3 separate regions of the Homo sapiens genome follow, and all the other regions are linked to region 1. Evidence: fine-mapped expression QTL. A gene starts in region 1. Each other region holds a variant in brackets. All regions are shown on one strand. Distances are between the middles of the regions.

Region 1 (4,242 bases):
ATGAAGAATGATGTACTCTGTTCATGTACATAAAATGGTAGCAGAGGGGATGTTGGTTAGCCATTTTTCCATCTCAGCTGAAATAAAAATTTTTAAAAACTAGTTTAATTTATTACCCAAAGGATCAAAGGTTAGCCATAAGAAAACTTTTATTGCTAAACATTTCTTAAATTCTAGAATACAATACTAAATGAAACAAGAAAATTCAAGAATAGGTTTTCATCTTCTTGGAATGCTGTGAATGTGTCCTGCAGAACATATCTGTAGAACAGTGCATGAACTAGATGTTCTCTTAAGATCTTTCACTCTTCTTTGATTCTACAAAATTTATCCATTGAATCTTGATAGCTTTATTGTCTTGCAACTAAAACAAAATTTAACTTTAGGGGAAAGTTCTTCCGTTAAAGAAAATTTAAAATTATTATAATGTCCATGACGTATAACTATTTCTATAGACTTTAACTAATAATCATCTAAGTTTGTAAGACTCATTGAAAATTTTTTAGTAAACAAAAAAATCAAGAGCAGACTTTTTCCTGCCATATTTTTACTTACCTTTAAAAATATACACTCACCTTTTGATTGTTCACAGAATGATTGTCTGCAATGCATTCAAACTTACCGAACAGAGACTAAATCAAATTCAAACTTACGGAAAGGGACAAAATCAGTATTGTGTATAGCAGCTATTGCATTGTTTTTGAATATTTATCAAAAATGTTTACTAGATGTTTACTAGAAGAATACCTATTCTCCCAGAAATGAAAGTGTTTTAAGAAAAACAATAACAGAACAAAACCCTCATCAGAGTATAGTAGTCATAATAATATCTTAAATTACAGGATTTTTTTCCTAAACATTTTAAGATGCGTACACACACCATAATATTCATTTATATCACCATCCACTAAGAGAGCATTTCTTACCAGGTATTAAATCAGATACTAATGATAATTAGAATGCACTAGATCTTACAATCTCTAAAACTACATCAACATGTTTATTCCTTCTTTTTTGAGCGACTCGGTTATTTGGGGGATTGTTGCTTCTGTTTCTTCAAGTGGCCAGTAGTTTTGCAATTAGCACACACAACTTCTAAGTTTGCTCGACAGGAAATTATCTTCCTCATCTAAACCATACCCACGGCTTCCTTGCTAAAGTGCAATTATGTTTTTCAGTCTGAATATAAACTCAAAGTTTCCTATGAAATTCTAGGACCACCCTTTCAAATGCGAGATTAGAGCAGGTGCCTTCAAATAGGGCTCATCTTGTCACCTGCAAAGTCTCCTTTATCTTTCAACACCAGGGGCCACTGGAAAGTGGGAGTCTAAAGTTGGGAACCCATTCTTTACCACGTGTTTAGTTGTGCTGAACTCTGGTTTCCAAACAAATATTGTTCTGAGGCACAGATGAGATGACACAACTCATCTCTCCGAAAGATGTTGAGAAGTTGAGCACCGTTTTCTCCTATGGGTCTCTTGGTAAGCTTCCAGAACTTGGACCTGCGGGTGTATGTGCGAGCTATAAAGCAGGGTGAGTGCACGGTCTACCTTGGTGGTGCTACTTTTCTTGAGACCAGTTGGTTTTAGCATTTATTTTACACCTCATTGAGGCTAACATCACATGTTTCTATCAGGTAAAAGAAGAGGGTTGGAGAAGCAAGTAAATGCATGTGTGGGAGTGTAGGTAGCACCAGAGGCGGAGGCCTGGGTTCCTAAGATCAAACGCAAGGAGCTGGCACCCCGGGATTCCCTCTCTGACTTCTGCTTAAGGGGCCGGGGTGGAGGGGCGGTAGGTAGCCCACAGAGTCCCAGCAGGCGGGAAGCAGGCACAACAGCGGACCTTAGCACGGGGTGGGACCCAGGCTCGGTCCAGGAGCCTCGGCCTGTCCAGCACTACATTCTTACTTACAATGCTTGCAATTTTTGGTTAAGGTGTCCGTCAGCTTCTGCAGTTTCTTGCGGTTCATGTCTGGCGCTCAGAGAATCGGGCCGCGGCGGGGGTCTCTGGGCGCGCGGCTACCGAGACCCTCGCGGGACCCCCGCGAGCCCTGGTGCTGGGTCAACGCGGTGAGGTCTCAGTTACTGATCTCGTGCGCGGCCCTAACAGACGGTGTAGCCAAGGCAACGGCTCAGCCCGCCGCGGATTGGCTCCCAGGCTGCCCGCGACGTAGCCAAAGCTACAGCTGGGCCCCGCCCATCGGCTCAGCGACTGCTCGCGCTGGGTTCTCGGTGCGCGGTGCCGCCGGCAGGGTCCCAGCTGGCCGCCTTGAGGGCTGTATTCTGACTGTTGACGTTGGAGTTTAAATGTTCAGTTGTTGCTGGCTTTTGAGTTCGCAGCCTCTTTGCTTGATTGCAGTGTAAATCATTAAAATCTGAAATGTGGTGTGCACGCTGTATGAGAGGTGTTTCGGGTCGTGAGCGTCACGCCTCAAGGGAAGGCCCAAGATCTTGGACATCTTGGGGGCTGGAGCAGCGTCACAAAATAGCAAGGTGCTGTCCAGAGGACGATCTTGCCGGGCCTCCCGTCAGAGGGCTAGAAGCTTGCTCTTTGGGCGGAGCCACTGCTTAGGTTTTCAGTCTTGGTGAGGTAACAGGAGGCAGTCTGTCACCTGAGGTCTTCGAGCTTTTAGTTGTGTTTCTGAGAGCAAGGGGAAATTGGAATACAGCCACGGGTTGCCTAAGGAGCGGGACGCGTTCCGAGGTCACTAGGAGATTTCATCACTGTGTGCACATCACGGTGCACCGACACAAACCTAGATGGCCTTGCCTACTGCACGCCAGGCTGTATGGTACAACCCATTGCTTCTGGGCTGCACCCCTGCACAGCAGGTCACAGCGCGGAATGCTGCAGGCAGCTAAAACAGAGTGCTAAGCACTCTGGGGAAGGTGCAGTGTTCCAGTACAGTGTTACATCTTATGGGACCACTGTCCTAATGTTGTCTGATGTTGACTTAAATGGCGCTATGTGGCTTGTGACTGTAGTTTTTTTCTTTTCCCACTGCCCTCATCTCACTTCCAAAAGATGGAGGTTGTCTGTGGAATCTGAGGAAAGCCACGAGGAATTTTTATACTGCTTAAATAGGCATTCCCCCCAATGAAAACGGGCTGACAACACCACTTGGGTGTGGGGTACAGCCCAATCTTGCTTTTCCGGAAAATATCTCAGCAACCTTGGTCCTTTACTTATTTGAAAGACAAGTTCTGTGCCGGCAGACAAAGGATATTCCTTACATCTTCAGGGTGGGAGGACTTTCTGCTTTTCCTGATCACAGAGGGGATATCCTCTTTCAGCTAAGGCAGCAATAAAAAGGGGTGGCTCAGCCAGGATCACCAAATCTACAGTATTCTCCAGAGTGCCTGCTCGTTTAACTTCAGAGGGGAAAATGACAAACTATGTTATTGTACACATACTGGCATTTTTAGACTGAAGGCAGAAAAATTCTACTAACCATGAGTAATAATCCCAAATGAAATAATTCCAATGTCGAGGCCTCTGGTTTTTCTTTACTGTTTCATTTGTTTGTGGAATGAAGGATTGGGATGCTGTTTGAAACTAGAGCAAAGGGTGCTTGGTAAAGGCATGGACTGTGTTATCCTAAAGCAAATGTCCTAACAACAGTTACCCGATATGAATTGATGGTGATTATGAGTTTGTAACAGTAGTATTTTTAAATAGTGTTTCTACATATCCCCTTGTCTAGAAGAGTGAAATTCCTGAGACCATAGAGAACAAAAGGGAAAGACTGGACATATTTGAATTATACTTACCTGTGACACCTTATTGATTTCTGTTGGATCACAGAGCTGTAGCAAATACTTAATTCCTAGAGATTGCTGCACTGCTCACTTCAAGAGACAAGGAACCGAAAGAGTGGTTGTCAGTAATTACTAAGAGACGCTGTGGGCTCCCCACCTGATGTACTAGGCCTGTGTTGGGGAGCAGGCCTGCGCTGTTGGTGAGCACATTGGTGGTTATTTCTGGTGGCCTGGGGAGATCGCATACACCGGGTGCTTGCTATAGGTAAGCTAATTAGTTATTCCTTCACGAGTTTAAGGCCTAGAGCCCATCAGCCATGTTCCCTTAAAGTTAAAAAAATAATAAAAAGATGTAGGGGCAATATCACAGATTGTTGAAATTAAAATATGCCGGGCCAAAACTCCTTAACCTGTTGAGCAAACTTTGTAAGTCACCTCCTCCTCTTCCACTTCTTTTATCCTCCAGTTCTTTCTTCCATGCAGT
Region 2 (4,242 bases), 38 kb after region 1:
CTTGGAATGAGCATCACGTCCCGGCTGATGTTACCCATTTGAGCATATGCCATGCTGACTTTCTATTTCTCTTCTGGGTACCAGCCACGTGTGGTTTTCAATTCTGTCTTTGGGTGATCCGTCTTTCATGTTTACAGATGGGCGAACTGACCATCCGTGGATTCCTACACAAGAGTTCCTTGATGGGCAAATAGGTAATTATTTACAAGTATGATCACAGATTTCTCAAAGCAGTGTGCCAAGCTACAAGACTCCTTTCTGTAGGAGAAAAAGGAAACTTGTAGGAATAGGAGAAGTGGAAAAAACCATTTCCTGACACCAGCATTTGTAATTAAGCAGAATATTCCATGTTGTTGCAACCAGGATTCCAAGCATTACCTGTTTCAGAGACCCCCAAGGAGTTGCTAGTTGGTTTGTTTGTACATGGTGTGTGGTAGGCACTCAACAAGTGTTTGCTGGTCAACTTTTGGTGGGTCTGGCATTTCTCTTATAGCACCTAGCTATTATAAGGATTCAGAAGGGCAGATACTGCAGATTAATGATGATTTAAAAGCAGCAAAACCCAAAGCTAACCCAGTTTTTCCTTATTATGCTCTTCAAAGCAGTTTTGGTTTGGCTTCAGCATCCCTTAGGGAAGGGGTTTGGATCCAGTCATATTTTATCTGTAATGATTCCCCATCTTAGGTTTGTAGGCAGTGCCTCCAGTCCCTATGGGTATCTCTGCCAGTCTAAACTAAATAGTGCCGATTGTATATTGAAAACATGCACTGGATTTTACAAACCAAGAGAAGCAAGAGAGAGATTTTTAAATTCTCATCAATGCATAAATACATTTAGATTTTTAAAAATAAATAGAATATTTGTCAAGGATCCACCTTAGCTAAGTCAGCATTCACACACTTGTGTGTGTGTGTGCATGCTCCTGTTCCTGTCCATGAGGAAGTGGAGGAAGGGATGGCCCTGAAGACTCTCTGTGATTGGCTTCAGTCACCATTCTGTCTAATTGTTCATTAAAATATCATAGCGCTACCCATAGGGTGAATACCTACATAAATTTCACAGTAGTTTCTTTTTGAAATCTTTCAAACAAGAAAAAGTTGTTTAAGGGCTAAGCCATGTTGCTCAGCAATATTATGTGTTTACATAATTTTATTTATTTTCTTTATTTCACAGCTCCTAGGACTTCAGGCATTAGGATTAATTCATAAGAAAGCTCACTGTGTTTCTCTGAAGTTTATTTTATGGTAGGAGAATATTTTCAATAAATTATGAACTCTGTGAAATGTATATGTAGTTGATGGACATTGAGTATATTTTCACTCTCATTGGATAGTTCTTCTGTCAAAACTTATTTCTTGTCTGAAAGCTACCAATCGGGCAACATTATCGGTACTACCATCTTCCTTACTCTTCACCCCTCCTCCTTAAGTAACAAATGGCTGTCTTTCATCCTTTGCTCTATTAGTTCTAATCAATACCCTAATTATGTAAATGATACTCAGCAGTGTTATCAGAAAGCGACTTGTTAGAGGAAAATTGTTAAGGCATAGATACACAAGGAAAGACAAAATAAACGCTTCAGAATTTTATACAAAGAAACCTTTCTATTCAAATAACAGAGAAAGTAATTTGAACAGCAGGGAGAGTGACAGAAGTTGGGGAAGGGGGCAGAAGATACATACATGTATATATCAGAGAAAAAGAAGGCATAAGAGACATGGGAAAATCCATATATGTATGTATATATATAGGTATATATACATACATATATACACACACACATTATTTTAAAAGATGCTTATAGAATCCATATATTACATTTGTGAATGTCTTTAAAGATTTGAAAAATAACTTTTAGTGAATCTAGAGAATGATGGCTGGGCATGGTGGCTCAGGCCTGTAATCCCAGCACTTTGGGAGGCCAAGGTGGGTGGATCACCTGAGGTCAGGAGTTCGACACCTGCCTGGTCAACATGGTGAAACCCCGTCTGTACTAAAAAAAAAAAAAATTAGCCAGGCGTGGTGGCAGGTGCCTGTAATCCCAGCTACTGGGGAGGCTGAGGCAGGAGACTCGCTTGAACCCGGGAGGCAGAGGTTGTAGTGAGCCGAGATCGCGCCATTACACTCTAGCCTGGGCAACAAGAGGGAAACTCCATCTCAAAAAAAAAAAAAAAAAAAGAAAGAAAAAAAAAGAAAGAAAATAATAGTTCAATTTTACAATAAGAAAAGTGTGCTATAACATAGGTTAAATAAAGTCGCACATGAAGTGTACCTACCCTTATTGAACCTCTTCATGGGTTCCATCTCCTAGCATCATGATTTCGTTATGTTTGCCACCTGCTGTGTAGAATAGCAGATTGTTATTTTGTTCTGCTGTACTGGCATTTAATAAAAAGGCCCATGTTGAATCCATGTAGACTTTCTTTTTTTTATTTTGTTTTTATTTAATTAATTTATTTTTTTTGAGATGGAGTCTCGGTCTGTCGCCCAGGCTGGAGTGCAGTGGCGCCAACTCGGCTCAGGCTCACTGCAAGCTCCGCCTCCCGGGTTCA[C/T]GCCATTCTCCTGCCTCAGCCTCCCAAGTAGCTGGGACTACAGGCGCCCGCTACCGCGCCCTGCTAATTTTTTTTGTATTTTTAGTAGAGACGGGGTTCACTGTGTTATCCAGGATAGTCTCCATCTCCTGACCTCATGATCCGCCTACCTCTGCCTCCCAAAGTGCTGGGATTACAGGCATGAGCCACCGCACCCGGCCCGAATCCATGTAGAATTTCACACCTGAGTGACCTGTGCTTCAGAGCCTGTCAAAGTCCAGGTGACAGACCTTTGACAACTCACCCCAGGGGAGCTTACCTGCACTTTCTCTGTGGCACTGAAGTGTTTGTCCTGGGACCCTGCCTGCTGGTTTCCAGCAGTGTTTGCGTGGCCTGTTTTTCTGTGGTGACACGCATGGACGTATGATTTATACTTGTGGATCACTCCTGCTGCACAGCAGGTGCTATCCAGCCAGCTGCAGCTCTGCTACTTCTGCTCAGAAGCACGTGGGAACACACTGGAGAGGAGAGTGAGTTTACCACAGGGAGAACTGCATACTTTCTAATTTACAGAACTTGGCGATTCTCTACTACTTAACAAAGTTAACAAATAACTTTTGGCACACCTCACAGAGAGGTGACATGCAGTGACCCTTGATTGCTCTGCCTGCACTGTGGCAAACACGGAACCAGAGCCACTGCGCTGCGGGAAGGCAGAGTTCAAGGGGTGGAGGGCGGGGGTTAGAAAAAGCCCTAGGTGAGCCCTCCCTGCTTCCTCCTGCTTCAGCTGGCCAGGAAGGTGACTGAAGCCATCAAAGCCTCTGTTTCCTCATCTGTAAAGTGGGAATACATGACCCCCAACCTCATTAGACTTTTGTGATTATGCAATGAAATGACCAGCTTAAAGCATTTAGCGTGGTGCCTGGCACAGAGTGAATAGCTGATATACCCTAGCTCTATTATTATAGCTAATCTAGCTATCTCATTTGATTGTCTTCCTGAAGAAATGCTTTCAGTAAGTGATGTTTCATCATAGACATCATAAAACTTTACATTCTCAATGTTTTCAAACTTCTTAGCAACAGGATCTATTACTAACAAACAAGATCATTAGAAAATAAAAAGTATAACATTCAAAGACCATAGCTATGATGAAAAGGACAATTTGTGTAGTATTATTCAATAGTGTCTTGAAAGATGCCATCATTTTTACAGTTGGTGTTTTAAAATATCTTTCTATATACAGAGAAGTCGATTACTCTGAAGATTTTTATGGGACCGGTAGCCTTTGTGTTTCTTCCTGCTATAGCTTTCAGACCATCAGCACATAACATTTTTGCCAACTTATTGATTACGTTTTTAAAATTAGCATAAATTCTTAAAATTCTTTCTTCTTTTGTATCCATGTCAAAAGGTTAGCAAAATAGGATATATTCACGTTTGTCTGCATTTGTCTAAAAATGCCAGAAAAAAGAGATCTGTATATTTGTGCTCTTTTGAACTTTGACGATATCACATAATCTTAAATATCAAACTAACTCAATAGGTATTATAATTTTTTTGGAGTATTCATTTTATTATCAGAAAATGACTATATAGCCCTCTACCAACTACCATACTTATTACAATGTCTAAGTAGAGGCTGTAATAATTTTTTAATAAACTGATGCATTTCTTCCTCGAAGGCTACACAGCAAATTGCTTTGAACAA
Region 3 (4,242 bases), 31 kb before region 1:
GGGAGAAAATGTCAAGACTGAAGTAGGTAGTGGGGGCGATTATGACATGGAAGACAAAGTGCAGTTTGAGAGGAAGAAATTGAGGAGATGGTGTTCAAGGTTTAAAATAATGAAGATGCAGATTGTGGAGGGGAACACGTTCCAAAGGCGGCCAGGTCCATGGGGTGCATGCTTGCTGAGAGGCCCTGGCACTGTAAGGCTCCCACAGATGGTTTGCTACAGGACATTTGTCATTTGCAAAGGAAGAGCTGAATTCTGGGGATGTATGGGGAAATTTCTGAGATTCTAGCATCACGAGTTTGAGCTGAGCATGCTCTTCATTTGTCATCAGTTTAATGCGGGTTTATTATACACCAGACAAGAGCACTGTGGGGAATGTGAGTCCCAGGCCTCATGACATCAAAGTTGATAATAAGTGTGATGCTCTCCCAGGCTGTAACAGATGCCTGGACAACACACTCAGGGTGGCCAGACTTCTTGGCAGAGGCTGGAAGGGCTTCACTGGGGAGGGAGAGCAGAAATTTTCCAGGCAGAAGGGAGAAAAAGGGAAGGAAGTCCATTCCTGCAAGAGACACGGAGGTGTGGGAGTGTGGACAGGCCTAGGGTTGCAGCATCATGGCAAAGGTGACTCAAAGGATCTCCAGAAATCCATTGTCTTTCAGAGAGTTGTAGTGTGTGCCAAAAACCTCAACAGCCTTTCAGAAGCACCAAGTTGCCCTAACACCCTCTCCTAACCTCCTGACTGGCTCAGAACCTATCCTGTCTAAGAATAACAGTGTCTGCTGAGGAAGGGAGAGAGTTTCTCAGTCAGTGTAACATTTACCATATAAATTCCTATTCTGTTGACCTGCACATTTACCTCCTTTGAAAGTTATGGTTTTGTGGTTAGCCGAGTGCTAAAAACCTATAGGTTTCAAACCCCTCATCATTGTAAGTTTACCAGGAGGCTGAAGATGAATAGAATCATCACCCTAGTGAAATCCTTCAGTTACCTATACCTGCAGGGGCTCATCTTAGGAATCATAGAATATCTCATAGCTTAATTTTTAAGTTTCACAATGATGTTTATTTCTTAATGCATTGTCATAGCTTGTTCTAACCTTATCAATGTAATAATCTATTTAAATCAAACCAAACTTATTATACACTTCAGTTTAGTCTGCTTACTTTACTTCCATTTTTTTGAGGATATATTCCAAGTAATAAAATTCCACATGCAGAGTTCAAATAAAGGCATTGAATCAGCCCTTGCTGTTCTCCAGGCAAAGACATGCTTATTCCAGTAACTTTGCCAGGTGTACGAGTGTCTGCAGTTAACCCCCTTTTGTTCTCCAAAGGTCTTGCTTTATCACCCAGCCTGGAGTGCAGCGTTACGGCCTCGGCTTACTGCAGCCACGACCTCCTAGGCTCAGTGATCCTCCCACCTCAGCCTCCCGGGTAGCTGGGATTATAGGCAAGTGCCACCGTGCCTGGCTAATTTTTGCATTTTTCTGTGAGACAGGGTTTCACCATGTTGCCCAGGCTGGTCTCGAACTCCTGGTCTCAAGCAATCCTCCAGCCTCGGCCTCCCAAAGTACTGGCATCACAGGTGTGAGCCAGCACATCCAGCCTACAGGGGCATTTGTAATACCAAATGAAACAGGACCAAAATGAACTGGCTGCTACTGCAGCCATGCACGGATGAGTAGAATGGAGACATCCATTTCTGCTCTTGGTTTCACACAGCACATCAGAGGCTGTCAGAGCTGTAGGCCATAGAGAGTTACCAAGCCCCGCAATTTGTATTTGTTGGGTATACAATGGCGTCACATCTGCTTTCTTGAAAAACAACATTGCCTTGA[GCA/G]CACACACTCCGTTGACATTCAGGTCAAAATAAGTTTTCCACTAATGCTGTGCCGTGGGGTTCAATCCTTCACTCATTCAGCAAATATTGACTGAGTGCCCACTACCATATGGGTAGACAGCACAGAAGAGGACTGACCAGGGCCATGTTTTCATGGATTTACGTTCTATAGAAGGGGAAAAAAAGAGAAACATAAACAGAAAAAAATGCAGCAGGGCATGATATCGGGGTGCATGACTGTGGCCAGCCATGTGCAGTCCCCTCTGTGGGCACAGGTGAGACCTGGTCCTCCCTGAGACCGCACTGACATGGCTTGCCCTAGCAAACTGTGGTGATGGCACGGTTAATGTCACATTTATCTTCTAAAGTGTTGCGAGCTTAACATGTCTTCCTTTTTTCACAAAATAATGGAGGGAAATATTAAATACTGGCCAAGGACTGAAGCCTGTTGCAGGCAGCGAGGGCTGGATTTGAAGGTGTGTAGGGCTCCCTGTCTAACTTTCCCAGACATCAGGAGACAGTGTCACCCTCCTGGGGGAAGAGAGGCTGCCTCAGGACTGGCAGAGTAGTCCCTACCCCGCCTCCTCTGGCACAGGCTCAGCCAGCCCACACCAGCACCCTGGGATCTCCACTGCCTGCCCCACCTCCTCCCACTGCCCCTCACTCTGGAGCTGCCCCTGTGTGTCATCAAAGCCACCAGAGCAGGAGACTCCACACACCACTCCCTCCCTCTTGTCCCCCCACAATGCACACCATCATCTTGCAGCCAGACAATGAGCATAGGACTGCTATTCAGAAAAGCGCGTGGCTTCGGAGGCTCAGGACATGTCCTGACGGCACCTGCAGGTTTTCTTTTCCTGGGGCCACGGGCACTGGCGGTGCTGCACCTGCCGTGGGCCAGCGCCCTGCCTGTCAGCCGCATACCTGGGCGCTGGTGCAGGCCCTGGCCTGCTCCACATCCTGCCCTGCTGCGATTCTGTCTCCCCACTGCACCATCTCTCAGTAGACTCTGTGGAGCAAGGCTGTCCCTCCCAGACTGCTATTTGATTTTCTAGAATCCTGCGGCCATGAAAGGAGAGAGAAACACCGCCCTTTTCGCCTCTCCCTCCCGGCCGCAGGCCAGGGTGAGAGCTTGCTTGCCTCATTCAGTCTGTTGTCAGTCAATTTCTTTCCTTATTATGGTGTTTCAAGAAGCAAACCCATCTCACATATATGGGGTCATGTTGTGTTTATACTAGTGCGTATCTCAGAAGAGAGGTGAAACTCATCGTTTGGTGAAATAGGCATTTGTTGACATGAGAAGGCCAGCGTTCATCAGAACCAACATGTATGCTTTTTATAAAACCAAAGGTTGTGTGCTACTGGATCTTGAAAGATTTATATAATTTTTTCAAGCTCTAAGAGATGTCTGCAGAGATGAGCCTGTTCAGAGAGCCAGGGAGAAGCTGACTCAGAAGTAAGTGGCAGCAAACAACTCTCAGCAGGGGCCTGGCTGAGAGCAGAAGAGGGGCATCCCTGTGGGTGCAGGAGGCCCGTCCTCTGCCCTGGGAGCTGCATCTGGCTCGCAAGGCTGGACTCCAGGGTCTGCAGTCTTCGCCCCTGTGATTTGTTCCTTGGCACTGGAACAATGAGGAAGTTTTGCTAGTAGTGGTGGAGCAGGTGCCACTGACTTTGTGACCATAGCAGTGATTGAAATACTCCAAGTATTCTCCAGTGACAGGAGTGAAAAATCTCGTTTTCTGCTTTATTGGACCTCTTCACACAGGCTGTGCATTTCATCTAGGGTACGAGAATGCTCTGTCCACTGCACAGGTGACAGGCAGTTAAGTGACCATTGTCTAGTCAGTGGATGTCTGCTGGCAAAGGGAGGGAGGTGGTGACAGTGCACTTCAGTGGGGAGGGAGCCTGAGTTTCACCCATGTAGACTAATGTCCTCTCAGCCGGCAAACCCTGCAGGCCCAGAACTCTGTGTGAGTGGCTGGGGCCCCATAACAGGGGCAATGTGGAGAAAAACAGCCAGGAGGGAGGCAGAAATAAACAAGGGGATGTGTGTTAGGGGGAGGAATGTTTTCTTCAGGGACTAAGTGGCAGCATGAGGTGCACAGCAAGCCATAAATTACGGAGGAAGGGGCCACGCCGTGCAGCACCCATGCTGGGGCGATGGCATGCAGACGTGAGAACACATGGCGGGGGGTGGTCTGGCAAGTCCTGGGCCCTCCCCGTGCTGCCCCCAAACTTTCCAGTCAGAGACCCATGTGTGGCAGTGCACTTGTGGGTGAAAGGCGGTGAGGGAAGCCTCCGTCCACTTGATGGGCACAGTGGGGATAAATCTCTTTTTAATATTAGATGTACTGACATGCCTTCCAAAGTAGATAATTCCTCTCTTCCCAGCTGGCAAG

Direction of the effects. Positions count from the first base shown, and alleles are read on the strand shown. Sizes are in standard deviations (SD) of each study's normalised expression.
In carriers of allele C in region 2, the expression in testis of the gene that starts at base 2,086 in region 1 tends to be higher than with T alone (moderate effect, 0.43 SD a copy in GTEx).
As copies of GCA replace G in region 3, the expression in substantia nigra of the gene that starts at base 2,086 in region 1 goes up (moderate effect, 0.69 SD a copy in GTEx).

What was found. PIP is the estimated chance that this variant, and not a neighbour inherited with it, causes the effect. A credible set is the group of variants that fine-mapping cannot tell apart.
Region 2: its variant is the best candidate, but not a certain one, in a credible set for the expression of CLXN in testis (GTEx, PIP 0.87).
Region 3: its variant is the best candidate, but not a certain one, in a credible set for the expression of CLXN in substantia nigra (GTEx, PIP 0.78).

What each region holds. Positions count from the first base shown.
Region 1 is chr8:48,733,183-48,737,424 of GRCh38, forward strand. CLXN (calaxin) reads right to left here and starts at 2,086. Exons shown (of 6, transcript NM_024593.4): 1 at 1,912-2,086. The coding sequence starts at 1,969. RefSeq lists an enhancer at 1,491-2,165.
Region 2 is chr8:48,770,938-48,775,179 of GRCh38, forward strand. No RefSeq gene overlaps it. Among named protein-coding and RNA genes, the nearest start is that of CLXN, 38 kb to the left of the region's middle. The variant C/T (reference allele first, on the strand shown) is at 2,553.
Region 3 is chr8:48,701,688-48,705,929 of GRCh38, forward strand. No RefSeq gene overlaps it. Among named protein-coding and RNA genes, the nearest start is that of CLXN, 31 kb to the right of the region's middle. The variant GCA/G (reference allele first, on the strand shown) is at 1,842.